4 linked regions of the Homo sapiens genome follow. The protein of the gene in region 1 interacts with the protein of each later gene in a pairwise test. Each region holds a gene or a part of one and is shown on either strand. Other genes may lie near its edges. The genes, in order: PKP2, CCDC120, SPTA1 and NDEL1.

Region 1 (7,026 bases):
CAATGCTTTGGAAAGATGACTCTGGAATGGATATGTGTTTCTTGAAAGAGAGACAGCGTTGAGGGCACTATAAAAGGTTCAGCTGAGGCAAAAAAGCCTTGAACTGGGCTGTTAAAAATGGAAATGGAAAAAAAAGGTAGAGTTGAAAGAGATGAAAAATTAAAGAACTAAAGCAGGTAGTAATTAAGAGGACGTGGAGGGAAGTCAATATGATCTGTTTTCTGCTCTGCAGTGCTCTTGGTCACAAATTTGACTGTCAATCCTAGAGAAGATCCACCCTCTCTGCTTAGTCTCCCTCAACTAATCCCAGAGCACGATGCTCTTGTGGGTTTTGTTTGTTTTGCTTTGAGACAGGGTCTCACTCTGTTGCCCAGGCTGGAGTGCAGTGTCACGATCATGGCTGACTGCAGCCTGGACCTCCCAGGCTCAAGTGATTCTGTTGCCTCAGCCTCCTGAGTAGTTGGGGCTACAGGCATGCACCACCATGCCCAGCTAATTCTTGTACTTTGTAGAAGTGGGGTTTTGCCATGTTGCCCAGGCTGGTTTCAAATTCCTGGGCTCCAGCAATCTGCCAGCCTCAGCCTCCCAAAGTGCTGGGATTACAGGTGTGAGCCACCATGCCCGGCCCTGCTCTTGTGTTCTTTAAATTTCTGTAGACACTAATATGTATCACACAACCTAGCACTTGATGATATATCCTATTTTTCACTGCTCCTCTCCTAGACCATCATACATCTCACTCAATTTTCATCTTTTATTTATTTAATTATTATTTTGGAGACTGAGTCTTGCTCCTTCGCCCAGGCTGGAATGCAATGGCACGATACCAGCTCATTGCAACCTCCGCCTCCTGGGTTCAAGCAATTTTCCTGCCTCAGCCTCCTGAGTAGCTGGGATAACAGGCATCCACCACCATGCCTGGCTAACTTTTGTATTTTTAGTAGAGACGGGTTTTCACCATGTTGGCCAGGCTGGTCTCAAACTCCTGACCTCAAGTGATCCGCCCACCTCGGCCTCGTAAAGTGCTGGGATTACAGGCGTGAGCCACCGCGTCCGGCCCATTTTCATCTTTTGTGATGCTTACTGGGAAGGACCTATGAAGATCCTACTACTCATTTGCAGAACCATCAGCCTCCAACTGGTCATAAATCATGGTTTTAGAAAAATTCATCTATAATTTTTTTTGTGGTGATTCTTAAAAACCTTTTTCATCAGTTTGATTTAGAACATCGGTTTCATCAGTTTGTCTCTCTCACACTCCAAGTCTCAGTTTTTAGCTGCATTAGTAACTGTTTAACCAGCCATTCTTCTTTTGGAAAGCCAGGTCCATTGTTTAATACCTTAAGTCATTATGCAGGTTTATGGTTTTGTCCAGTTAATATTCAACATATATGAAAGAATACTCCTTTACATGTGGGAGTTTCACTAGGCATAAAAACTTAAATCCCCCCCAAAAAAGGGCTGGACAAAGTTTGACAATGCGGGACCAAAGAGAACACAGTGTGTGGTCTCAGGGCAGGTGTCCCAGGGAGCAGCCTGGGGAACTGAAATGAGGCGTGGAGCCCAGCAGAGGAAAGGGGGAGGTCAGACAGGCACAGGCACCACCTTGGGCATCTATCTTCCTCATTACACAAAATACGTCTGGCTCCCTCTCCTTTTCACAGAGAGCCAAATTTTCCTTTCATAATCAGAGAAAAAAAGTTGATTTCTATGATTTCTACTCTCTAGAATTTGGGGAAATCTCAGGAAGAGATTTCTTACTCATTATTTTTAAATTTCTTGACCCCAAGTGTTCCTTCTACTCTTGGAAATATGATTAAATATTATAATACAATTTACCCTGTCTATTAAAACAATAATCCAAAAATAGTATGACTAATACTTCTAGAATTTGAGCAACAAAAGAACCTAGATGGCAAAAAGTAAAATTTATATTTCATTTCTCCTTCCTTTAATTCCTTCACTCTTTCACCATATACTTATTTTTTGAAAGAAGATCTCATTCTGTTGCCCAGGCTGGGGTACAGTGGCACAATCACAGCTCACTGTAGCCTCAACCTCCCTGGCTCAAGCAATCCTCCCACTTCAGCCTCCGGAGTAGCTGGGACCACAGGTGGGCACTATCACGCCAGGCTAAGTTGTTTATCTTTAATAGAAGTGGGGTCTCGGGGTCTCCCTATTTTGCCCAAGCTGGTCTCAAACTCCTGGGCTCAAGCGATCCTCCAGCCTGGGCCTCCCAAAGTGCTAGGATTACAGATGTGAGCCACTGTGCTGGCCTCATCATATATTTATACAGTGCCTACTATAGGCCTACTTCCATTTTAGGGTGCTGAGAATATAAAGATGATTGAGCATTCACAAAAATCTCAAAGTCCAGAGGGAGAACAGATAAGCAAATGAATAGCCACAATATATTTTTCTGATAGAGACACTCACACAAGGCTGCTATCTGGGGCACCTAAGCTAGACTGGGAAGGAAGTGGTCAGAAAATAGGTGGTATCTGAGCTAAATCCAGAATTATAAGTAGTCAGACAAAAGTAGAGCTGCATATGTAAAGGTGTGGAGTGGGGGAAAAGAAGGAAAGAGAGAGAGAATGAATATGGATAAATATCTTGCATTAAGGAAAGTAAAGAGGTTCCAGGTGGTTTGGGTATTGGTATGTGGGTATGTTTGGGGATGGTGGTGATGAATGGCAGAGAAGAGTAGAAGGAGAAGAGGCTGAAGTGATAAGCAGAGCTGAAAACACAATGGGGCTTGTAGGTCATGCCTAAAAGCATGAACACTTAGTGGAATTATGGAAGGGTTATAAACAATCACATGTGGAAAGATAATTCTGACAGTCCTAGAGAACGGTTCTGACTGAGCAAGACCAGAGGCAGAGAGCCCTGTGTAATGGAAATGGAAAGAAGGGTAAAAATTCAAGACCCATCATAGAAGGAAAAATATGGCTTGGTGATAGGTGACTACAGAGGGAGAAGATAAGAATGACTTCCAGGTTTGAAAATAGTAGACTACAGCAGGAGGAGATGGGTGGAAGTTGAGGATAGGGAGATGATGAGTTTAGTTTAGGATATACTGAGTGTGAAATTTCCAGGAGGTTGTTACATTTTCATATAGGTCCAGAATTTGGCATCAAGGATGGAATTGCAGACAAAACTTTGAGAACCATAAGGATAAAAGTGAGGTACACAGAGCCTCTCTGGAAGAGCATCAAGACTTGGAATAGAAGGGTTACTGAAGATGCCTTCTTTGAGCAGGCAGAAAGGGAGCACGCAGAGAACACTAACAAAGAATGGCTGGAGAGGTGAGTGGAAAACCAGGGGAAGCTGGTGCCCTGAAAACCAAGGGATGAGAGAATTTCATGGTGTCTCAAACACCACCCACAGGTTGAGTAATATAAGCAGTGCTTATATTACTCAATATAGTGTCTGCTTAGGATGTAGCAGATAAGGCCATCATTGCTACATTTGTCAGGAGACTGTTTAGGTGGAATGGAGGGGACTGAAATCATATTGCAGTGGGTTGACGAGAGACTGGGAAGTGACAGGGTGGTTCAAGAAGCAAGGGACACAGAGATGGAGGGAGAGAATGCCAGTTGTTGGAGGATGTCAGATAATAATTTTGTTACTGTTAAAATCATTTTGCTAAAACTGTGGCTATCACAAATCCTAGGCTATGGTAGGCATTCCATAAATTTTGAATTACCTGTTTAAAAGCCTTTATCAGCTTTTTCCTCCATAAACAATGACCTGATACACTTTCTCTTTTTTTTTTTGAGACAAGGTCTCACTGTGTTCCCCAGGCTGGAGTGCAGTGGCACAAATCTTGGCTCACTGCAACCTCCATCTCCTGGGCTCAAGTAATCCTCCCGCCTCAGCCTCTCGAGTAGTTAGGACCACACGTGCACACAACCACACCCAGCTAATATTTGTATTGCTCGTAGATATGGGGTTTCATCATGTTGCCCAGGCTGGTCTTGAACTCCTAAACTCAAGTGATTCGCTCGCCTGGGCATCCCAAAGTGCTGGGATTACAGGCCTGGGCCACTGCTCCCGGCTTATTTTTCCTCTTTGTAAGTATGCTCATATTGCCTAAGGTCTGCTTACTATAAGAAATGTTAGAAATCTCATGGTGAATTTTACATCATAAAAAATATTTCCTGTGTTAAGATTAGATTAGCCCTCATCATTTTGAGAAGTAGTTTATTAATGATGCTACCTGGTCAGTGAGCATGCTGTACAATTTCACTTGAAGGGATGTTTAGAGGTAACAACTATCATTAGACAACTTTAGCAATCAAATGACAATAACATATCTAATGTTTTAGCCTAATGATGTTAGATCATTATTGCAGGAGTTACTGATCTAATCAGCCATCCATTTCTCAATCTTTCTCTTAGTAACGTGCACAGTTTATAAAATTTGTGATCAGGCATTAAACTTGAATAAGGGTTAAGTTCCAAACACTAAATTAGTCAAGCTATAAAGTAAATAGGAATGGAAAGGAATGACTTAAAAATTCAGTTATTTTAATAATTTAATACTGCCAAAAGAATACCCCTTCAAATCACTGACACTAGAAATCTAAAAGGTACCAAGTACCAAAGGAAGAAAAAAGACATCTAGAAGTCAGCCATCTTTCCTTAGCTCTTTTTACAGTCATAGTTATCCAAATGGCATTCGTGCTAAGAATAAGCATTTTTTCCTTTTATTTCATGGGATGATGAAGAAAATACGCATGCAATTCTCCAATTCTTGGCCTACTTTGGAGTTTAGAGCAGATTTTCATATGGCTGAGGGGTAGGGTCCCTTCAGCCAGCATCTAATCTGGAACAGATGGACTAAATGTCACATTTCCATACAAAGCTGCCATGTGAGCAGGTAGCTTGGCCCCTGTCCCTGAGGTAAATAGGCTGATCTGTCAATTAGGCAGCTGCCTGAAAAGTCATTATTTTAATCACTTATCTCTGGAAGCCCTTCTCTCAAGCCCCAGAAGTGCCAGCTCATGCTGTCAGGGCTGTGGGAACAGAATGTGCTGGCAATGACTGAACTGCAGAGTCAGGAGGGGACTTACCCCAGCTGGGAGTCAGTGAAAGTGCTTCTCTCAGTGAGCAGATTCCCACTTCCCCCTGCGGCCGCCTGGCCGACAGTCAAGTGCGCTCTCCTCCCGCTGGAATCCACGGCGACACTGGGCCCAGCTTCCCTCAGCGTGCGGGTGCTGTGGAAGGAGCTCTGATGCCAGGAGGACCTGGAAGCCCTGTTCTGAGTGACGGGCTGCAGGGGCACCAGCGGCCTGACCTGCCCGACAGTGAGCCCTGCCGTCAGGTAGTTCTCCTTCTCCAAGAGGTTGCCCATGCTGCGGCTGGTCCCTGGCCTGGGGTACGTGAGCAGGGCCGGGTTGGCAGGGATGCTGTCAAAAACGGTGTCGCTAACAGAGCCATGCTGGTACTGTCTGTGGTATGTGTCAAAGTGGCGCTGCCTGCTTGTGGTGCCAGCACGGCTGACCCCCACGATCTCGGAACGAGCATATCTCGGTGGCACTAGGAGGGCGGCCCGCCTGCTTTCTTGGTGGTGCAGGGTGTGCCCAGCCTGGCTTCTCTGGCTGTACTGGTAATCGCTGTGCGTGTAGTGAGCCCTCTCCGGGCTGCTGTCAGGAGAAATCTCCAGTCTCCTCAGAGGATGCCTCAAGGACCTTTCTTCCACGGACTTCTGGGAGCTGTACTGTGCTGTTCCTCTTCCCCAGCGACCTTCATAAGTGGCAGTTGTGCCAGCCTGCACATGAGAGAAATAAAGTTTAAAGGGGGCATAAATCAAATTTCAACTTTGCTGAGGACTAATTACTCTGGGACTATTACCCAACATGTCCGTTTCTCTGAATCAGATGACGAGAAGTTTGCCCCTTTCTGGGTAAAGGCTTTTTGAAAATAAGACTTGGTTGACTTGAGTCATATTTATTTGCACTAGGATGTAAGAATGTTTCACATCCCTAGTTTTCCATGGTATCCTCATAAATATCAATTTTCTCAAAACTCATTTAGGAAATGATAATACTTGGGAAAAGTAAACACTCAAAAATAATCTTAGGAAGTTTGAAAATATTTTCATGGTAGTAATCTGATCACTAGGGTTACATTCTTTGATATCCTACCTTTAGCATGTCATAGGTTTTAGGAACAGGGGAACGGCCTCCAACAAAATCATTTTCAACCAAGTGTAGGTTGTAGACATACTCAGGAACACTGCTGGTTCGGTGAAGATTTCCTGCAATCAAGCAAATATTAAAATAACTCAGAATACAAGTAGGCTAATTAATATTTACAGACTGTATAACAATGATGTATTAAACTTTTAAATTTAAGTAATGAAGGCCAAGAACAAGTATTAAACGTACGTTAATGTTTTTAAATGCTAGTTTCACACCACCCTGGGATATGGCAAGTGATCAAAGGTTATCAAAACATTCTCTACAAAAGTTTTTCAGCTGGGTGTGGTGGCGCACGCCTCTTATCCCAGCACTCTGGGAGGCAGAGGCAGGTGGATCACCTGAGGTCAGGAGTTCAAGACCAGCCTGGCCAACATGGCGAAACCCATCTCTACTAAACATACAAAAATTAGCTGGGCATAGTGGCGGGCATCTGTAATCCCAGCTACTCAGGAGGCTGAGGCAGGAGAATCACTTGAACTCGGGAGACAGAGGTTGCAGTGAGCCAAGATCACACAATTGCACTCCAGCCTGGGCAACAAAAGTGAAACTCTGTCTCAAAAAGAAAGTTTTGGCTGGGCACGGTGGCTTACACCTGTAATCCCAGAACTTTGAGAGGCAGAGGTGGGTGGATCACCCGAGGTCAGGCATTCAAGAGCAGCCTGGCCAACATGGTGAAAGCCCCTCTCTACTAAAACTACAAAAAATTAGCTGTGCGTGGTGGCAGGCACCTGTAATCCCAACTATTCGGGAGGCTGTGGCAGGAGAATCGCTTGAACCCAGGAGGTGGAGGTTGCAGTGAAGCTGAGATTGCGCCATTGCA
Region 2 (7,026 bases), on another chromosome or scaffold:
ATGAGATCACAGTTTCCCTTTTGTAAAACGCCTAGTGTTGGAGGAAGACAGTGAATACCTAAGTCACAACTGTAAACATAAATGGAGGAAGGGGCTTGGGGTCCCCATGACATCATCCCCCCTCTTTTAAGCTAGCTGAGGGCCCCCAGTCCCCAGCACAGTGTGAGAGAAGAAGCAGGGTGTCAGACACCTTCCTGGGCCTACGGGGAGCCAGGGGCCTTGGAAGATTAGGTTGGCGCACTCTGCTCAGGACTGAGAGCAACCACACCCCAGGGCCCAGCGAGGTCAGCTGTGTGCTCCCCAGATTGGAATCGTGCCCAGGCCAACAAGGGACATATCAGAAGGGGTCAGACCAGTGTCCCCGGGGTCTGGGTGTCAGAACTGGAGGACTGCTCCCCCTCTAGCGTCAGGTCACTTAAACGAGCGCTCAGCTCCGGGGGATACAGGAAGTCCGCGTAGTATCTTTAGAAGGGGTAGCAGGAATCCGGAGGACAGGGCGGGGAAGACAAGAAGAAGAAAAGACAGACAAGACACAGAAAAAGAAAGGAAAAGAGGCTCGTTAAAGAGGTGGAGGCAGGCACAGGACAGCACTTTCAGGCTCTGGGGCATGGAGAAAAAAGGAAGAAAACAGCAAGGGGCATGAGATGTCCCTTCCTCCCGGCACCCTGGCTTCAAGGCTCATCTTCAGCCTATAACTTGATAAAGAATTGCTGCTACCAGTGCCCAAGATCCCCTCCACCAGGACCCCATGGACTAATGCAGGTCATGTGCAGTAGAGTGACCCTGTGCCATCACAGCAGCTAGTTTCCTCATGGTCCAATTCATTAGCTATCATGACTAGCCACTCCCTGGCCTGGATATCTTCGCCATCTGCCTTACGAGACCCCTACCCATCAGTAAAAGCACCCCCCATACCTGCCAGAGACAGGGGGCGCCGTGAAACTCCTCGAGTGTGGGAGTGGCGCCTGGCTGGGGGCCCCGTACAGCGCCTGGCCCACCTCATAGCAGCGGGCATGGAGGAAGGGTGGGTGTGGCGGGCCCACGGAAGGGAGCACAGGCCGGCGCTGGGGCCCCGCAGCCAGTCCCGAGTTCCGGATGTACCAGTCCCGCAGCCCCTCCAGAGCCAGGTTCTTGTGGCCACTGCGTTCACCAGCCGAGGGGATACGGGTGGGTGGGGGCATCCACAGCAGAGGGTTTGGATGCACCTCAGGGCCTTCGGCAGCCTCTGGGGGCAGGCCACAGGGCTTAGTGCGGGTGGCACGGGTGTGGGGGTCCTTGGTGCGGAGGAGGGGGCTGTTGCTGTCAGCTGCATACACAGGTGGTGGGCCGGGGAGCATGGTGAGGAGCCCATCCCGGCGGGAGAGGGGTCCTGGGACCTCAGCTGCAGGCGGCAGCTCCCCCCAGCCTGTTCCACCGCCACTGCGGGGCAGGCCCCGGTCCAAGGAATAGTCCAAGAGGAAGTCTCCACACACAGGTGGGAGCCGGGGGGCACCTCGGGAGGCAGGGGCAGCTGAGCTAGGCCGGGCGGCCCGGGGAGGGTCTGGGGGGCCTGCTGTGCGGGAGGAGAAGGCAGGGGTTGGTTGGGGGCGCTCATACAGCACCTCACTGCTCTTGCAGACTGGGGGGCCAGAGGCAGAGGGAGCCAGAGGGGCAGGCGGGGAGCCAGCTCCCCCACCAGCGGCCCGGTCCACCAGCAGGGCCTCAGAACTGTTGCTGCGGCGGGTGCGAGCTACGAAGAGGGAGGCGCGATCGGAGGCAGGGTCCGCCCGGGGGAAGCCCATCTGGGAGTCCTGGCTGCCGGACCACTGACGAGAATGAAGGCCTTCAGGTCTGGGGTGAGAGGCGAGGGTCATGGGAATAGGGTCAGAAAAATCAGGCAGAAGGCGTGCAGTGCCCTCCCTACCCCAGCCCTTTCTAAGCCTTCACTTTCACATCTCCAAATGGGCCCAAGGTTGGAAGCTGTGTGTATAAAGGTGGCAGGTAGTGACATGTAAAGGGCAGCTGAGGTTCTATCCTAGGCTAGGCGGTCAGGGGTAGAAATGCGTGGGGGAGGCCTGGCACTGTTAGCTCCAAGGGAGGTGTAAATCTGTGTAGGGACTCAGAGGAAAGGCTAGCAGAGTAGATGCCGGGCAGGGGGCTGTTCCTAATCCAGCTGACCCCTCCCCCTGCTAAGGCCGTTCTCATGGCTCGCACGGCCTCCAGGATTAAGTCCTAGGCCTTAGGGCTCACATGTAAAACCCTGCCTGAATTCTCTATCCGACCATACGTATGAACCACCCAAAGCTACCATCCCAACAGCCACCGTTCACAGAATGCAAGCCCCACAAGGAAGGGGACTTGGTTTTGTTCAGAGCCTGGGGAAAGTAGGCACTCTGTTTAAGAAGCAGAAGAGGACAGTGGTTAAAAGCATGGACTCTAGAGTAAAACTTGCCTGGGCTCAAACTCCAGGACTTCAGTTTACTAACAAGTTACTTAACCTTTCTGTGCCTCACTTGCCTCATCTATAAAATGGGAATAACAATAGCACCCACCTCACAGGGATCTGATTATGATTAAATGAGTTGATGCCACGTAAAACACTAATTCCTAGCAGATGGCAGGCACTCAGTATATGTTAACCAGAACTTATTATGTCCATGTCTTTCAAAGGCAGATATTATTATTTCCATTTCACAAATGAGGAGACTGACTCCTACCCCATTATCCACCGAGATGCCTGCTCACCTTTAATGCCCAGCCTCCCATGTCCCACACCTTTTGTTTTTTTGTTTGTTTTGAGACGGAGTTTCGCTCTTGTCGCCCAGGCTGGAGTGCAATGGCACGATGTTGATCTCAGCTCACTGCAACCTCCGCCTCCCGGGTTCAAGCGATTCTCCTGCCTCAGCCTCCGAAGTAGCTGGGATTACAGGCATGCCCCACCATGCCCAGCTAATTTTTGTATTTTTAGTAGAGACAGGGTTTCACCATGTTGGTCAGGCTGGTCTTGAACCCCTGACCTCAAGTAACCCGCCCGCCTCGGCCTCCGAAAGTGCTGGGATTACAAGCGTGAGCCACCGCGCCCAGCCATCCCACCTTTTGATAATGTTGTCCTCAAGCTTCCAGTGAGAACTAATGGTTCCCTCCCCTCTGATCCTCCAGCCCACCCTCAGATTCCCCTTACTTGCAGAGCTGGGGGCCAGCGCCCCGGGTGAGGACAGGGGTGGCAGGCACACTTCGCCCCTCAAAACTGGAGGCACTCCTGGGCAGCGAGCGTGTGGGGCTAGACAGAGACAGGCAGGCCTAGGTTAGAGACTGTACCCACCAGCAGACCCTCTGCCAGCCCAGGCTTGCTATCCCATTCCCAGCTCCTGCGGAGGGGAGGAGGGGCTCATTCTCACCTGGTGGGGCTGGCCACAGAGTTCCGCCGGCTCTTCAGATCCCCATAAAGATCTGATGGAGGTGGTTTCCATGGGGTTCGCCGCTCAGGGCTCCCCCCAGATACTGCCCGCAGCTGGTCCCAAGCCTTGGGTGGTGAGGGGCGCTCGGCCAGAGAGAAGCAGCCATGGGGCTCCTCTGAGTGGAAGAGAGCAAGTGGGATAGAATTCAATGAGGGGGGCCCAGAGGGGGCAGGACAGGCTGGGGGGCAAGGCCATGGGGAGGGGCAAAGTGCTGGGACAGGTTAAGCAGGCTGAGGAGGAACTAAGGCTGACAAGTAGGTTCTGGGGCTGTGGGGCTGGGGTGGGGTGAGGCTAAGAAGATGGGGGACCCATAGGAAGATGGAGCATGGCTAAGGAGAAGCTGAAGCAGCACAGGAGGGGCTGGGCATCAAAGGATGGGCTGATCATGCAGGATGTGGTCGGATGAATAAAGGGGATGGGCTAAAGGGACGTAGGAGTCGGGGGCAGGTTTGGGGGATAGGAGTCCTCACCGTTGTCATGGCTGGCCCCAGACTCTGAGAGGGAGCTGCTCTCTGAGTGCAGAACTACGTCCTCTACAGGTGAGAGGGGGAGAAGTGGGCCTCTCACTCCCAGGCCTGGGTGCTGCCCCCTTACACCACTGGGTGGGCACCTCTACTTGGGCCACCTTCTGGCCAGTTTCCGCCTCATCCTGTTCCTGTCCCAAGAATCTGCTTTTACCAGAGCCCAAGACCACCCCAGTTTGGTTCCTGACTGTCCTGGCAGATATTCATCAGTCCCCCACAGTTTGTCCTTTCCGGTAAGCCAGTTTGTCACAACTCTTCTCACGGGTTGGGCCACTTGAGTTGTGCCTACCTCCCGGTTTTCACCGGCCAGTCACCCATCCCAGCCCTACCACGTCCATTTGCCAGTGTCCACTCTCCCACCCTCACCAGGGGATGCTCACCTTGGCTGAGCTGAGCAAGACGCATGCCCAGGCAGACTCCCTGGGTGGTGATCACTGACCCCGTGGACAGTGGCAGTGGCTGGGGCAGCGGGAGCACTGGGAGGCCAAGGCGGGCCCGGACATCCCTGAGCTGCTCCTCTAGCTCATGCAGCCTCCTCAGTGCATCTGCCTGGACCTGGCGCCGGCGCCGGCGCTGCTCGGTGCTCAGATCAGGGGCCAAGGCCAGGCGGCGGGCGGCCGCCGCGATCTGCTGTTGCACTGACACCTCGCGTTCCAGGGCCTCAAGAGCCAGCTCCTGTTGGGCCCACCCAAATGTTGGAAATGGCCAGGAACAGGGACCTGGCGGGGCCAAACCCAGTAGAGGCTGGCCTGCACTTCCTGCAGCCTATTCAGACCTATTCACCCCGGGGAGGGGGCGTGTCAGGGCCTCTCTTGGTGAAGGGCTGGGTCTGTTCATCTTCCTTAGGGTTGGAGGCCTGTCCTGACAGTTAGGGACCAGCATCCTCCCTCATCACAGGAAACTAACTCCAGAAGCCCTTTTCCTTCTCATCTTAGCCTCTCCCTCACCTGGCCACAAGCCCCCTCCCCACACCTTCCTCCTGGCTACTCCTCTGTACCTGTCCCCTCTTCCCACCCTCTTGCTCTCCACACCCATCTGCTCACCTCAGCAGGGCACAAGGAGTGGTGTGCTTGGTTGGGGTGCGGTGGAGGGTAGGCGCGGGCTGTGGGGGGCCGCCGGCGGACCAACTGGGGCCGTTCACCAGGCTCTAGTGGGCACTCAGGGGGCAGCTGGCCAGTCAGCTCCTGGTGGGAGGCAGGGGTCAGAGACTACCAAGGGTTAGTTGGAAGGATGGGGTGAAGCATTAATGATCCCAGAAGCTACAGAAGTCCTACCAGGAGCCTGGCCCTGCTCAGCAACCACGCACGATACTCCCCTCCCTCCTACCAGTATCTCCACTAGGCAGGTGTGCCCAAACCTCAGTGGCCCAAACCCCTGGGGTGGTGGGCATGGGAGGCAGGGAGACCTGCTTTGGAATCCAGAATTGTTTTGTTTTTATAAAGGTGATACCATCGAGATCCTAAGTATTATATAACTCACTTCAGGGGCTGTGGCTGCGTGGTCTGAGCTGTAGTATTATTTCCGGCACACTGTGGGCATTCACAGTAAGAGGGGTAAACTGAAACTACAGATCAGCCTGTGCCAGTTCAGGTCAGACTGTGCTGCCAAATTTTGGACAGAACCTGTTTTCTGAGGTTTGTTGGATTTGAAATTGTCAACAGTGGGCCTGTATTACCATATTTTTTTTTTTTGAGGTGGAGTTTTGCTCTTGTTGCCCAGGCTGGAGTGCAATGGCGCAATCTCAGCTCACCGCAACCTCCACCTCCAGGGTTTAAGCGATTCTCCTGCCTCAGCCTCCCAAGTTGCTAGGATCACCACACCCAGCTAATTTTGCTTTTTTTTTTTTTTTTTGAGACAGAGTCTTGCTCTGTCGCCCAGGCTGGAGTGCAGTGGCGCAATCTGGGCTCACTGCAAGCTCCGCCTCCCGGGTTCATGCCATTCTCCTGCCTCAGCCTCCCGAGTAGCTGGAACTATAGGTGCCCGCCACCACGCCTGACTAATTTTTTGTATTTTTAGTAGAGACGGGGTTACACCGTGTTAGCCAGGATGGTCTCGATCTCCTGACATCGTGTTCCGCCCACCTCGGCCTCCCAAAGTGCTGGGATTACAGGCGTGAGCCACCGCGCCCAGCCTAATTTTGCATTTTTAGTAGAGACGGGATTTCTCCATGTTGGTCAGGCTGGTCTGGAACTCCCGACCTCAGGTGATCCACCTGCCTCGGCCTCCCAAAGTGCTGGGATTACAGGCGTGAGCCACAGCGCCCAGCCTATTTCATTCATTCTAACACATCTAAGCTGAGCTTTGAGGAGAAAGTAGGTGACAGGGAATCTACAGCCAAGACAAGTGGTTGAGGAATTGCCACCCAAGTCTGTCTACCTAGGGGCCCCAGCTCCTCACCTCCTCCCAACCTCCCCGCCTGATACCCCTAGGGCCAGGCCCTCACCGCCTCCTGGAGACACACTTTGCGGAGCTCCTGAAGTTTCAGGCTCAGGGCCTCCTGCAGGGTCCGCTGCCGGTCAAGCAGCCCCCGCAGACGCTCTGACTTCACCTGGGGGGCAGCCTCTCCGAACAGGGCAGCTGGACACAGAGGGAGCAAAGATCAGTGGGACAGCCAGGGCATTCTGGAGCAGCTGTGGGGCAAGGGACCAACTCTTCCCGAGCAAGCAGGTGGTGATTCAGAGCAGGGGAGGAGGCAGCAGGAGGGGAAGCAGCCACCGACCTGGGGCATTGAAGGTAGGAGAGCTGATCAGCTGACCTTTGACTTCCATCTTGGTGCTGTCGAGAGGCCGTGGCTGATGGCTGGACAAAGTCTGGCAGTGACACAAAGGAGCCGTTAAGGAAGCACATCCCATGATACCCCAACCCCCAGCCCTTCCCAGCTTCCCATGCCACAGCGGGGAATAAGGGGTAACCTGGGCCCCACGTGCCTGCTTGACCTGCCCTTTCAGAATCCGTGTGGATGTCTGGACCCACTTGGCCCTGGTACCTTGGTTCCCTTCGCATTGAGTGAGAGCACAGCAAGTGGGGAGCTGGGCGGACTTACAACGCCTCCTCAGAGGCCCATG
Region 3 (6,908 bases), on another chromosome or scaffold:
TTATTTTAAAGGCTCAATAGACTGCCATAGGAATAAAAGAGTGTAACACACAGTGTCCTTCCTCATCAGAAAAGAGGAATAACTGATTTTTTTTTGGAAGTAGAGCACAATGAGAAAGATGATAGTTATAATAATGGTTTTTAAAAAAAAAAATTGAGAGTTTTTTTTGCATGCTGTGCCTGTTCTTGTAATCTATAAATTGATCCATTCAATATAGCACATTATTTTGCTCTTGTTCTAGGTGTTTCCTGTCCAACATCAATTGCTTCTGATTATGACAACACCACATGCTATAATTTTAGGTGAATAGAAAGGGGTAGGCACTTTCACCAAATTTCTTCTACTGAAACCTCTCTTTTGAAGTTAAGAGCCATGAATAGCAATTTAGGGAAGAAAAAAAAAAAACTCTGGTTAACTCATCTCTCTGAGAAGAGTAGAGAACAGGTATCACATGCTATAATTTTAGGTGATCAGAAACGCGTAGGAGCTTTCACCAAACTTCTACTGAAACCTCTCATTAGAACTTGAGACCCATGAACAACATTTTAGGAAAAACTTAAGAGCCATGAATAGCAATTGAGTTAACCAGGTTAACTAAATTGGATTTTAGTTAACCTGGTTAACTCTTATATTTCTGAGAAGAGTGGAGGACAGTTGCTTCAGAAGCATTGATGACTCTTCACCCTATTTCCCTTCTTAATGTCCCAAAATATCAAAAATCACATGGTTTGTCAGAAATTTCTTGAATTTGCAGTTGCTGTTTTGCCTGTAGGTCAATTTCAGATGAGTATTGTAACCATCAAATTCTATACAGAATAAATCTCCTTTGCAAATAACACCCCGATGTTTATGAAGATGAAGACATGGACTATTTAGAGGCAGAATTACTGTTTCTAACAGACAGTCTAATTTTTCCATTACATCACTCCCACTACAATTAACCAGATATACACTTACATTACCATAATATTTGTGCTGGATCTGAAAAAAAATTGATGTAATTTTTTACTTTTGGCATTGATGAATGCTTCACCATGAAAATATGTAAAGTATCCTATGCCCTTATCAATAAGCAATATCCTTGGTTAATGATTAAAAAATGTATATTCTGAATGGAAGTTCATTGTAAAAAACAGTTCTGTGCTTTCAACAACTGAAAAACTGCTGCTTTTTGTTTGATTCTTATTTTCTCAGTCTCACCTCTCCAACTTCATAAGGGAAAATGCACTTTTAGATTTTCTATTAATTTATTTCTTTAACTTCCCACTCCACTGACTTATTTTTGTTTCTAAACGGAATCTAATTGTACCCACACATACCCATTAACATTAACATAAAGAAAAACCTATTTCCTTCTCTAGAGATCTTAGGGTCTGCTCTGAGGCAATCAAGAGAACTGAGTGACCTGTATATTAGTTGGGTCTTCATAGCTCTTATCGGTTAAGATATTGACTTTCTCCATGATCCACTTCCCCAGATCATCTGCATCTCGCTTGAAAACTTGTAAGTGATAGGAATCCTCAAGCTTCTGACCCCTCTCAGCGACCCGCTCCTTGAAACTTTGATACCGAGTCAACACTTCCTGACGCCTCTCCTGGATCTCTTCTGCTGTTTCCAAAACCTTTGGCCCACTGCTCTCCACAACCTGCAAGTTAAAAAGATTCTGTTACTTGCTAGTTCTCAAATATTTAACATGTTGCCCCGCTTATATGTGTCAAGGTGTTTACTCATGTTGGACCTATATTCAGATATCCTGAAGTTTCTAGGGACTATTGTCAGAAGAGCTGTAGTATATTTACGTAATTTTTAACCAGACATAGCTTCTGTTTAGGTTAAAAATTCTTGATTATCCAGAAGACTCTCCTCACTTTTTACATAAATTTGTGCTAGCATTTAAGTTCTATAGATATAATTATATTGGACTGATCATGGAGCAAGTTTAAATCAGCAAAATCACATAATTTCAGATAGATAAAAAGAAATATAATGTTATTGCTTTCAAGGGCTAAAAAGGTGTTGAGAAGTGCTTATTATTTTTAACTTAATTTAATAAATAATTAAGAATGGCTTGCAATTAATTTAGTTAATGATATATGCAACAGTTTGAAAATTTTGTTTCCTTCATACTTAAAAATAAATCTCATATATTTACTCTTTACTTGCTTTACTCACAAACACTATAAATCAAAAGTTCAGCTATCTTCTGCCCAATTGTCACAAATTTCAAATTATTAGCATGTCTGCAATTTATTTTTGAAATATAAAAACTTTTACTCTAAAACAATATATAAGTATCCTTTTCCCAGAGTGGGAGCCAACCTGTTTGTGACAATATCCAGCAAAATCACCATAGGGTTCACCTTCATTCTTCTGGATATGGATACCATTTTCCCTAGCTTACCTCAGCCAAAATGTTTAATATAGAGTTTAAATTTTAATCTCCCATTATTCCTCCTAAGTATAATTGCTACTCTGTGAATTGCCATTACTGGCATGGCTATAGAATTAGATCATTACATGGAGACTCACGTTGTTACTAGGTGTTATTTAGCTTCAATCTCCCTACTTATTCTCTCTGGGAACCGACTTAAGTCATTACTGGGTCTTGGTGCTGCACAGACATAAGCTCAAGGTTATTGTTCACAAAAAATAGTTAAAAGTAAAATTATCTATTTGTTAAAAGCCAAATAATTATTAATGTTCCTGGGAAAGATAGTATAGAAAGTTTAAAGGAAACATCTTTCCTAATAATATTAATGACAAATTGCATGGAAGAGAAATATGTACTTACGGTTTCCTTTGGAAATTGCTCCATTTTTCCTAAAGGTTTAGAACCTGGCAAGATAAAATGTGTCAGAGAGAGAGAGAGAGAGAAATAATTCAAATGGAACTGTCCAGTCGAATTCAAATAGAAATATAGAAACGTTAAGTATGTGGGGGAAAAAAAAAAACCTCTTGCTTGGTCCTAGAATCCCATCAGCCATACACAATCGACATTATCTTTAGAAGACATACTCAGCTGAGGCAACTGCTAAGTTTTACAGATACTGGGTGACTCAGCAGTTTTGGGAGGCTCTGGCTTTCAAAGTTACTCAATAAGACTTAAAAAATGAAAGTAAGGTTTTTGGATGAAAAATTAGAAAAAAAACCCCATATATTTATAGGAAATACAGCTCAACAACTTCATCCAACTCAACTGCAGATTTTTCACAGTCTTTAAGTCAACGAATTATCCTGGCTTTTTCTAGAGAGTCTTTCACAAAATAAGATTTTATTCCTAACCTCAACAATTTGGTCTTTAAAAATCTGATTTAGTTGTACTCTTAATCATTTAAATGGAAGGAACAAAAAAAGTTATATGATGTGTTCATTAATATTTTGTAAAACAAAAATTAGGATACCTTATTTGACAAACCAATGATGTCACAAAAAAGTTGAAAATATGGCTGACTTCTGATATATATGGTATAAATCATCCTACTGTATGTATTAATTTTAATGGAGAACAAAAAGAGGTAGACTTTTTCCATAGGCATAGTTATTTTAGACTAACTTACAAAAATGAAACAAACAAGCAAAAAGAAAATAGTGGGATGCTCTTAGACCTTTCTACAAGCCAGTGGGGCTATCCATGCCAAACTTCATTCCAGTGTAAATGCAGCTTGAATAATCTAACTTCCATGATCTACAAGAGAAGATTTTGATTCTACATTTGTGGTTTCCCCTGTTCTTGGATCTCACATAGAAAAACTGAGAGTCCTTTACATTCTCTTCTTGAAAGTCTGGATTACTTTACTTTTCCATATAGTTTCATTATATTCAAGTCAAATTTAGTAGTAAAGGCAGGAACATAATTTTAGAGACTGCACTATAACACATGCACTGAGGAATATTTGTCTGAAGTTGGGATAAGGAGAGGAAATTATTTTATCTTTAAGAGAAAAGAATCAACATCTATGAAATATTTATATATTAACATGATCAATTTACATTAATTTCTAATCTTTAAAAATTCTGTGAGGCAGGTATTATCATACCCGTCTTTATGTGAGAAAACAGTCCCTAAAAAACAAAGTTTCATTCTATGGTGATTTGGTTTGAAAGTATTTAAATAGTCAAATCCATATCAATATGATTATCATGGCACTCTGCTCCTTATTTTTTTAGTCAATCTTCTCTTAGTCCATCAACATTATTTGTTCTGTTTCCCTGTTCCAGAATCATCTTAGCAAGAATGCCAAACATGTGATAACCTTGTGACCAAAGAAATAGTATGGCCCATTGTGAATAGTGCCACAATATACATATGTGTGCATGTGTTTTTATAGTAGAATGATTTATAATCCTTTGGGTATATAGCCAGTAATGGGATTGCTGGGTCAAATGGTATTTATGGTTCTAGATCCTTGAGGAATTGCCACACTGTCTTCCACAATGGTTGAACTAACTTACACTCCCACCAACTGTGTAAAAGCATTCCTATTTCTCCACATTGTCTCCAGCATCTGCTGTTTCCTGACTTTTTAATGATCGCCATTCTAACTGGCATGAGATGGTATCTCATTGTGGTTTTGATTTGCATTTCTCTAATGACCAGTTATGATGAGCTTTTTTTCATATGTTTGCTGACTGCATAAATATCTTCTTTTGAGAAGTGTCTATTCATATCCTTTGCTCACTTTTTGATGGGGTCATTTGTTTTTTTCCTGTAAATTTGTTTAAGTTCCTTGTAGATTCTGGATATTAGCCCTTTGGAACCAACCTGAATGCCTATCAGTGAAAGACTGGATAAAGAAAATGTGGTACCTATACACTATGGAATACTATGCAGCCATAAAAAAGGATGAGTTCATGTCCTTTGCAGGGATATGGATGAAGCTGAAAACCATCATTCTCCACAAACTATCACAAGGACAGAAAACCAAACACCACATGTTTTCACTCATAAGTGGGAGTTGAACAATGAGAACACATGGACACAGGGAGGGAAACATCACACCCTGAAGCCTGTTGCGGGGGTGGTGGGATAGGGGAGGGATAGCATTAGGAGAAATACCTAATGTAGATGACGGGTTGATGGGTGCAGCAAACCACCATGGCATGTGTATACCTATGTAACAAACCTGCATGTTCTTCATATGTGTCCTAGAACTAAAGTAAAATCATCACAATAAAAAGAAAGTAAAAATGCTTACTAATTCTATAATGTTTATTTTAAAAAAAAAGAAATAGCATGGCCCAATCAGCAGAACTGATCATAAGGAAATAAAAGTGTCTTTTCAACATATGTGTTGGAAAAATTGCATATTCACATAAAAAAATGAAATTGGACCCTTATGTTATGTACAAAAATCAACTCAAATGGGATTAAAGACTTAAATTACAACCTGAAACTGTAAAACTCCTGGAAAAAAAAAAACACAAGGAAAAAGCTTTATGACTTTTATCATATATAATAAGAATTATATATTTAGTATTTTATACAGTTTTAAAAGGATGGGGATAATTTGGAGGGCTGTTGTATCTGGCCATGGTTATCACCTCAGGGAGGGTTTGTACTTTACATAGTAGTTTAATCAGCACTGAACAGCTTGCCTCAGCTGCTGCTCAGGCATCAGAGCAAAGTGATCTGTTTGGTCTTGCCAAGTACTTCTTGGATACGGTACCAGAAACAAATGCAACAAAAGCAAAAATAAACAAATTGGACTACATCAAACTAAACATCTTCTGCACAGCAAAGAAAACAATAAGCAATAAAAAAAGTTCTCTTATGGAATGGAAGAAAATATTTGCATACATCTAACAAGAGGTTAAAATCCAAAATATACAAGGAGCTTCTTCAAATCTATAACAAAAACGAAAATTAGAAAATGAGCAAAGGACTTGAACAGATGATTTTCCAAAGAAGACATACAATTGGCTAACAGGTATAAGAAAACGTGCTCAACATCACTATCAGGAAAATGCAAATCAAAGCGATACTGAGATATTATCTCACATCTGTTAGGATGGCTACTCTCAAAGGAATAGAAAAATAAGTATTGCTGAAAATATGAAGAAGTTGGAACAATTGTACACTGTTGATAGAAATGTAAAATGGTGCAGCCACTGTGGAAAACAGTGTAGCATTGCCTAAAAACGAAAAATAGACCTATCATACAATCTAGCAGTCCCACTTCTGGGTATACAGCCAAAAGAATTAAAATCAGGATTGTAAGGAGGTATTTGCACTTTTGCACTTTTATGTTTATCTCAGCACTATTAACAAAAGTCAAGAAATGGAAACAATTGAAATGTCTATGACTGATGAAAGTGGCATGTACATACAATTGAAATAATTCAGTCATAATAACAAATGGAATCCTGTCACATATGACAACATGAGTGAACCTTGATGAAATTATGCTAAGTGAAATAAGCCAGTCACAGAAGGACAAATACTGCATGATACCACTTATAGGAAGTATATAAAATAGTCCAACTCATAGAAACAGAGTAAATAGTGCTTGTCAGAGGCTGAGGGAAGGAAAAATAGGTATTAAGTAGGTATGAAGTTTTATCCATGAAAGATGATTGAATTCTAGAGCTGTGCTGTACAACACATTGTATAAGTGTTAACAATACAGTATTGTACACTTCAAAATGTGTTAAGAGGATAGATCTCATGTTGTTTCTCACCACATTAGAAAAAAAAGTGTATAAGAATCATAGTGTTTGTTTGTTTGGTTGGTTGGTTTTTGTTTTGTTTTGTTTTGTTTTGTTTTGTTTTGTTTTTTGAGTTGGAGTCTCACTCTGTTGCCCAGGCTGGAGTGCAGTGGCACGATCCCACTTCACTGCAATCTCTGCCTCTCAGGTGCAAGTGATCCTCCTGACTCAGCCCCCCTAGTAGCTGGGATTACAGGCATGCA
Region 4 (7,026 bases), on another chromosome or scaffold:
AACTCATTTAAAATCACTCACACACAATAGGAAATTAATCTGCTTTCTAAAACTATTCCTCGCAGGCTGTAGGGTCCTGATGGCCCAAGGGGCACTGGCTGCCTGGAAAGCACCAGCTGGTTAGAGAATTGAGCCTTTGGGAATCCTGGGGAACCAGGACCACATGACCTGTTTGGCAACTGCCGCACACTGGCCACGGAAGCCACAGTCCTGATTCTTTCCCCATAAAGCAGGTCTAAATGCCTGGCAATAGGGAACTAGTTAAATAAATAATGGTACAACTGAACAATAAGATATTGCACAGCCATTAAAAACACATTCCACAAGTTTTTTAATAGCATGGGAAAATATTCAGAATGTAACTAACACTAAGTGGAAAAAGATGCAGGTTACCAAACTCTGTAGATTCAATGATATGAAAGAAAAAAAAGCAAATAGTATATATTCTAGATTCTAGACTATAGCCCCTTAGATAGACATTACTATCCATGCAGCTAAATCCACAAAGCAGGGACAGAGGGGGAGTGTGTATAAATAAATGTATATATACATACATTATATATACGCATACACATATATATATACACACACCAACATATATGTACATAGGATCATATATATCATAAAAAGAAAATTTAAGAATCGTTACTTTTCTTCCCTCTGGGCTGTGGGTGAATTTTGTTTACTACTTTATCCTTTTTTAATCATTTTCCAAATCTCCTTACATTTTCCAAATATAATGTATTAATACACGAATATCTTAATAAGGTGGAGAAAAATAACCTTTTAAAAATTGTTTAGCAAGCAACGCCAGATGAGTAGGCTTTTCAACGCAGACTCGTGTGCAGACAGCCCAGCCCAACCCAATAGCCTGCAGCCAGGACCCAGCACCCGGAGCCCAGCGACACAGGGAGCCCCCCAGCGTCCCCATCACGCACCCAGAGCCCAGCGATGCAGGGAGCCCCCCAAGCATCCCCCTCACGCACCATGCAGCGCAGCCACAGGAAGCAGCAAGAGGGGGAGGGAGTGTGCAGCCTGGAACCTCTCTCAGGAGCCACTTCAGCCTTTCCACCTTGAAACGCTTCCTAGGAAAATTTGTCCCACTAGCAATTTGGGAGATAAAGCCAACTACGACAAGGGGCCACACTGCACCACACCTGCCCACTACTGCCCCCACCTACTCATCAGACGGCTCCAGGGAGCTAAATACAGACTCATGGAGAGAGGTTCTCCTTAAAAAAAAAAAATGCCGACACACACTCCCTGCAGAGACAGCTGTTTCGTACACTGACGGGGTGAGGATAACCTCACAGACAAACAGGCATGCAGAGACTTGACAAATAGTCCCTGCCTACTTGGAAGAAACAAAGTTCATGTCTAAAGAAACTAAACTCAGAGTACATATGTGGAGTTTAAATTCCAACCACGCATACAGAGACCAAGAGCCCCAGGAGAAAGGCTCTGACAAATGTCATTTCTCCCTGTTGCACACTGTCCTACTTCGACGACAAACAGCCAGATTGTCTCTTTCCTCACTGGGTTAGGTCTGATTTTTGAGCTTCAACACATTTGCAAGTTTGAAATCATCCTTCCCACTCTCCCAAGGTCACAGGCCTGTGCCTCTTCTGGGGCCAAGGCCATATCCTATTTGCCACGGTAGCCCTCATATAATAGGCTCCATCTGTCTGGCTAGTCCCAGAGTCCCTGACACCTGCTTCTCCTAGAAACCTCAGGGACAACCAGGCAGGCCCCACAAATGCCTGCAGCTCTCAGCACGTGTGAACCTCAGATTCCTGGCCTCACACATCACAGTGGCAGGCAAGCCCCTAAACCTGTACTGCAGACAGTGCCCGGAACCCAGCAGAAAGGGAGCACCATTGGATGCCAAGAAGAATCTGGCACCTGGGCCACGGGGGTGTACAAAAGCAGCAACTAGGAGATGGCTCCTCAAGCAGGTTGAGGATGGGATTCTGGCATTTTCAAGTGCACCGTAAGGAACAACAGGTTCATCCCACTGTTCCACTGCCAAGACAACCAAAGCAAGAGAAGGTCCAGCCATTAGCCTAGGCTCACCTAGTGAGCCACTGATGGGGAAGTCGGGGCCACAGCTGCCTCCAGATGCCCAGGCCAGGACCCTTTTCTAGTCTCCTCCTGGTCAGAGGCCACCTAGCAGCCCTCAGAAGCAACCACTTCGGCACTCCAATGCAGGCCGGCTCTAATGGGAAAAGTAAGTGGTGCAGCCCAGACTATAAAGAGAGAACCGGTAAATTTCTACATGGGCAGAAATGGAACGCTTAATGTGAAGGTGGGTGGAGTAGAGAGGGAACATCAATCCACCAGGGTCTCACCTAGCGCCTCTCTCCTGACTCAAAAAGTAGAAAGTTAAAGAACAGAGAGAGAAGAAAGCTGGCCTTCTAGATGGGATGACAGGTCTAGTGAAGTCCTTCAGAGGCCTGCAAAGCTGTGCATGGGGAAAAGATTTGCAAGAGAAGAGACTCTATATTCAACAGATTCAGTTTCAGGGAGCAGCAAAGAGCCACAGGGCAATGTCCCAGTGCACAAGACAGGACTGAAGGAAGAGTGATGGGGCAGGCTTGAAGATACAGATCTGGGAATCATATATGTAAAAAAAAGGTTCCAGAGCTATAAAATTTCATGATCTTACCACCACAGACTAGTTAAGGAGGCTGAAATATAGAGAATCCAGCTAAGAAAAAGTGCTAAGGTCAGTTGTAAAATGTCAGTGGAAGAAGTGAAAAGGGGGAAGAGCCAAGGCACACTTAGAAGCTACTCAGGACAATAAATCCAAAGCAGCTGAGATGAAGGATGGAAACATTAACTCTGTCAAAGCAGCAAGGATCAGGACACTGGAGAGGGCAGGAGGGTGGGCTCAAGCTATCCAGAAGAGCCTGCAGGCAGGCACACGCCACACCTGAGTCTCCTATTTCAGTGGATGAGTGTGGGCTCAGAGCAGCTCCAGCCTGCTCCAGTTCTCAGCCCAGGCTCTGCAAACTGCAAAGCAGTTCTGAAATGTAAGGCAGATCTTACACACGTCCCCATGTACCATTCCATTTTAACTGGGGACTCCATGCGTGAGCGCAGAGGTGAGGGAATGCTCACACTGGTGCCTGACTTGAGAAAACAGAAGCAACTGGGTAACGGGAAGACCCCCAGTCCCAGGAAGACAGTCAAAGGTGATCCCAGGGCCTGACAGTGACCTCAAACCCCCATCGCCAGACTCTGAAATCAACACTACAGCGCCCTAGCCCATCTCAGGCGTGCCACCTGGCATGCTACTCCCAGCCACCCCAGGACCACTGCAACTAATTTGTTCTTGTTTCTCACAGCTGAACTAATAACGGCATACAGTCAAGTCGAACAGGACCGTGAAAGTTCACTGATGGGCTGTAAGTTGGTTAAAGCTGAGTCAGCCCCATGCAGTTAGTAAAACCAGATTGTTAATGTGTCTTCCACCACACACCAGGATTAAGAAAGAATGAAAAAGAGCACAGCAAACAAATTCAGTTACCCATGAACAACGTGGGAAATATGACTTTTTCTTGCCTAATAAAAGAAAGGAGAACATATTAAACAGTAATACGAATACTATTTCCACATCACGCCCTAAAATTAGTCCATGCCCACCTACACACAGCCCAAAAGAACTCAGAGTGGCTTACAAAAATAGAGCACATGTTACCTAAGAAACTACATAAAGTTATGGGAAAAAAAAGAGTGTTTTTGAGAGACTCCAAGCGACCACACTCCACATGAAATGTGTGTCCTTTCAGATGGTGAGACAAAGGGTGACCATGGTTGAAGGAAACAGCTCGGCACCTGGGAAGCAGGCACGGCAGCCCATGTTTCAGGAACTGGCAGAAGTGCTCACAGACTAGACAAAAACCTGATTCCAAGAAGCCCTCAAGTGACCAGAATTTACAAAATACTTTTGAATCCCACAGAGCAATACGCCCAGTTAAGGTATATTGTTTTATGTGAGAAGGCTTCACTGCATCTGAAGTTTCAGCGGGTGGGAAGGTGAACACATGTACACCCGCACACATGCACACACACACAAACCTACTTTGATGATGTCTCTCCCCCAAACAATCCTGCCGCAGGTTTCTGGCAGCACTAGTGAGCCATCACCACGGTGCTACAGACTCCTCAGGAGTGAGAGGGAGGGCAGGCAGGTTCTGCAGTGGAGGGCTTTTTCAAATGGGGCACTTTTCTCATGCTGAAACTACAAGCCATACTTCTCCACTTCTACACAGACAGGCTTTTGTGTTTTTAACCTGCCAGAGTGTATAATGGACCTGGGAAGTGGAATATCCTGCCCTTCCTTTTGCGGCTGCTACACAACATCTTGGTTTTTATCTGGTCAACAGGTTGGCAGAAGAAAAGCCAGAGGTAAAAAGCCAGACAGGCCAAAAGCCGGAATCGAAGCAAAGCGGCAAGAAAGTGAAAACACAGCAAAACCCACAAAAGAGTTATCCTCAGGAATACAGCAACTAGAAAGACAACTCCAGCAACAGTAGGTTAATATTTCAGTGCGCATACACAATCCACTTATCATATAAGCTAAACACTCACACAACAGCCAGCCCACAAAAGCATATTTCTTAATAGAAAAGGCACAATGTAAAATGTCTACCATTTAAAACCAAAACTCAGTATCTGCAACTGTTCCGATTGGGAAGCACAGCACATTTCCGGGTTCAGCTCAGGAAGTAAAGCCTACACTTACATCTCGGATGCTCTCAAGGGGCAGAGGTGCAGTCAGTGTGCCCAAGGCCTGTTCCTGGCTTCAGCTCACCCTAAGGTCCCCACATCTCCCTCAGAACAGGCTCACCTCTTGGCAATCCCTGCCCTGGTGCTCTGTCTTGGGAGGCAAGTGGCGGGCAGGAGTAGCGACCCTGAACAGACAGTGTTATCCTTCCCTCCTCGTGACTGTTCTTCAGGGCTTCCACACGCACAGGCACCTGTCCGACCTATCCATTTATGATTCACACCTGCTCTCATGAAAGGCACCTGCGGCCCATCAAGAAATACGATTCCAAGGAGAAACTAATAACTACTCTAGTAGAGGATCATTATAAGTTGTAGGGAAAAATAATTAGGCACTGCTTCCAACATTTATGAAGACTACCCTAAAAGTTCTCCATATCATTCAGGGGAAATGGCTACGCTCATGTAAAACCATCCAGTCATTCCATTTATCATTCCACTATAAAAACAAGGGCTGCCGCAAGTCTGCCTGAAACTCCTAAGCCTGAGGAAAATCAATTTTATGTTTACTCCACCCGAGGAAACCCAATGGTTAGAATAAAGTTCTGATTTCAGCTGGGCGCGGCGGCAAGCCCAGCACTTTGGGAGGCTGAGGCAGGAGGATCACTTGAGCCCAGGAGTTTGAGATCAGCCTAGGCAACAGAGTGAGACCCCCATCTCTTCAAAAGAAAACAAAAATTATTTAAACAAATTTTTTAAGAAAGAATAAAGTTCTAATTTGTATAGTGATGTTTTAGGATGTGCTTTTAATACAAAATCCTTAATGAAATGTATATTCTCCAGGGTAAAATCAGGGACAGAGATCAACCAAAACACTCCACTGCAAGGATAAGAGCCTATTCAGAGTGCACCGTGTGTCGAATCTGCTCCTTTACACATGTGCCATAATTATTGAGGACGGCAGAAAATCCCAGCTGCTTTCAGAGATTGTGAGCGTTTCTAGAGTTGTACCTGCTCTGCTTTCAGAGAAAAACAAGCAAGAATTACCTCTTTGACTCAAAGCAGAGACAGTAGCCAAGGATCACGGGTGCCTGTTGGCTGTTTCAATAACAACTACCTTAGGCAACACCGTGAGCATCCCAGGCCACGGGTCCTAATAGTGACCTATATTAAGGCATACTCATACAACCACGTATTACCATGTAGTATTTAAAAATAAATAAGTAAATTGAGGTAGAATAATATACATGACATGGAAAGATAATGGCAATAGAAGTCATGATAGGCACACTGCAAAGCAATATTTAAAGTATAATCCCGTAACTGTGTTACAAACAACTTAGAGCAGATGCATAAAAATATGATTTGGCATGCCTTGGAATAACTGTAAGGAATGCAGAAACAGTGTGAAGGCAGGAAACCATGACTTTTTAGTTCATATACTTCCATACTAACTGAAATTTTTTGCATTAAGGATGCTTCAACCTTAAAACAATTTTATTTCAATCTTCAAAAAAGCCTTAACTTTATACAAAAGTTGTATCTCCTAAACTGTATTTGATCCAGTGCCTAAGTACTTCAGGGCTTTATATTTCTCTAAAATTCTCACAGGGGATGTCTGTTGTAGAGTTTGCATATATTTAATTGTGATGCTGTCTTCTACCCCAAAAAAATATTTCCAAGTCTGCCAGCCTGTAAGCACCTGGAGAACAGGGACCTTATCGCAGTCATTTTGACTCACCAGAGCCTCACACTGCTGCCTTTCAAGAGTCTGCTTCCCAGGACAGAAGCCTCAGATTCAGGGTTCCTGGGGCAACAGACTCCATGGGGACTAGAGGACAACAACAGACGTCATGTCACCTAAGATTAGAATGATAACAGGCTTCGGGAAGGTTTGTCAAGCTGAGTTTACCTTTTCAAGGCTTCATTATGCTCACTTACTAACCTGTCACTTTACTACTCAAAAAATTATCACTTAAAACATTCAGGACTTACCCTTTGTCGAAGAAAGATGTATGCCCTGATCGAGAGAACTTTGTGCCATTGCCATTCAGCACCCCACAGTTAACATTCCCTGAAATATAGGATTTTCGTGATGCTTGGTCCTTTGCAAAATTCCTGCAAGCTGCTAATTTGGATTCTAAAGCCTACAAAAAAGAAGGAGGAATGATATGGTTGTCAAAACAGTAGCTGCACATAAAAATTTGCATTTCAAACCATTTCTATTTCAAGCCTCAAAACTTACTCATCTCAGTTGATAATGGTGGTTAGTTCAGCCATAATCAATCAACTTTCTAA

What was found.
Region 2: the proteins of PKP2 (region 1) and CCDC120 interact in binary tests that used the Homo sapiens proteins (3 or more experiments, as listed by UniProt).
Region 3: the proteins of PKP2 (region 1) and SPTA1 interact in binary tests that used the Homo sapiens proteins (3 or more experiments, as listed by UniProt).
Region 4: the proteins of PKP2 (region 1) and NDEL1 interact in binary tests that used the Homo sapiens proteins (3 or more experiments, as listed by UniProt).

What each region holds. Positions count from the first base shown.
Region 1 is NC_000012.12:32,872,771-32,879,796, forward strand, and holds part of PKP2 (plakophilin-2), read right to left. Parts: intron 6,263-7,026; coding exon 6,150-6,262; intron 5,774-6,149; coding exon 5,076-5,773; intron 1-5,075. UniProt on the Homo sapiens protein: A component of desmosome cell-cell junctions which are required for positive regulation of cellular adhesion.
Region 2 is NC_000023.11:49,061,980-49,069,005, reverse strand, and holds part of CCDC120 (coiled-coil domain-containing protein 120), read right to left. Parts: 5' UTR 6,965-7,026; coding exon 6,902-6,964; exon of another isoform or gene 6,889-6,901; intron 6,772-6,888; coding exon 6,681-6,771; intron 6,539-6,680; coding exon 6,405-6,538; intron 5,146-6,404; coding exon 5,005-5,145; intron 4,637-5,004; coding exon 4,342-4,636; intron 3,971-4,341; coding exon 3,908-3,970; intron 3,553-3,907; coding exon 3,378-3,552; intron 3,260-3,377; coding exon 3,161-3,259; intron 1,831-3,160; coding exon 916-1,830; coding exon of another isoform or gene 894-915; exon of another isoform or gene 463-893; coding exon 348-462; 3' UTR 1-347. UniProt on the Homo sapiens protein: Centriolar protein required for centriole subdistal appendage assembly and microtubule anchoring in interphase cells. Together with CCDC68, cooperate with subdistal appendage components ODF2, NIN and CEP170 for hierarchical subdistal appendage assembly.
Region 3 is NC_000001.11:158,683,703-158,690,610, forward strand, and holds the start of SPTA1 (spectrin alpha chain, erythrocytic 1), read right to left. Parts: upstream 3,014-6,908; 5' UTR 2,816-3,013; coding exon 2,792-2,815; intron 1,646-2,791; coding exon 1,406-1,645; intron 1-1,405.
Region 4 is NC_000017.11:8,459,858-8,466,883, reverse strand, and holds part of NDEL1 (nuclear distribution protein nudE-like 1), read right to left. Parts: intron 6,876-7,026; coding exon 6,724-6,875; intron 3,565-6,723; coding exon of another isoform or gene 3,530-3,564; intron 1-3,529. UniProt on the Homo sapiens protein: Required for organization of the cellular microtubule array and microtubule anchoring at the centrosome. May regulate microtubule organization at least in part by targeting the microtubule severing protein KATNA1 to the centrosome.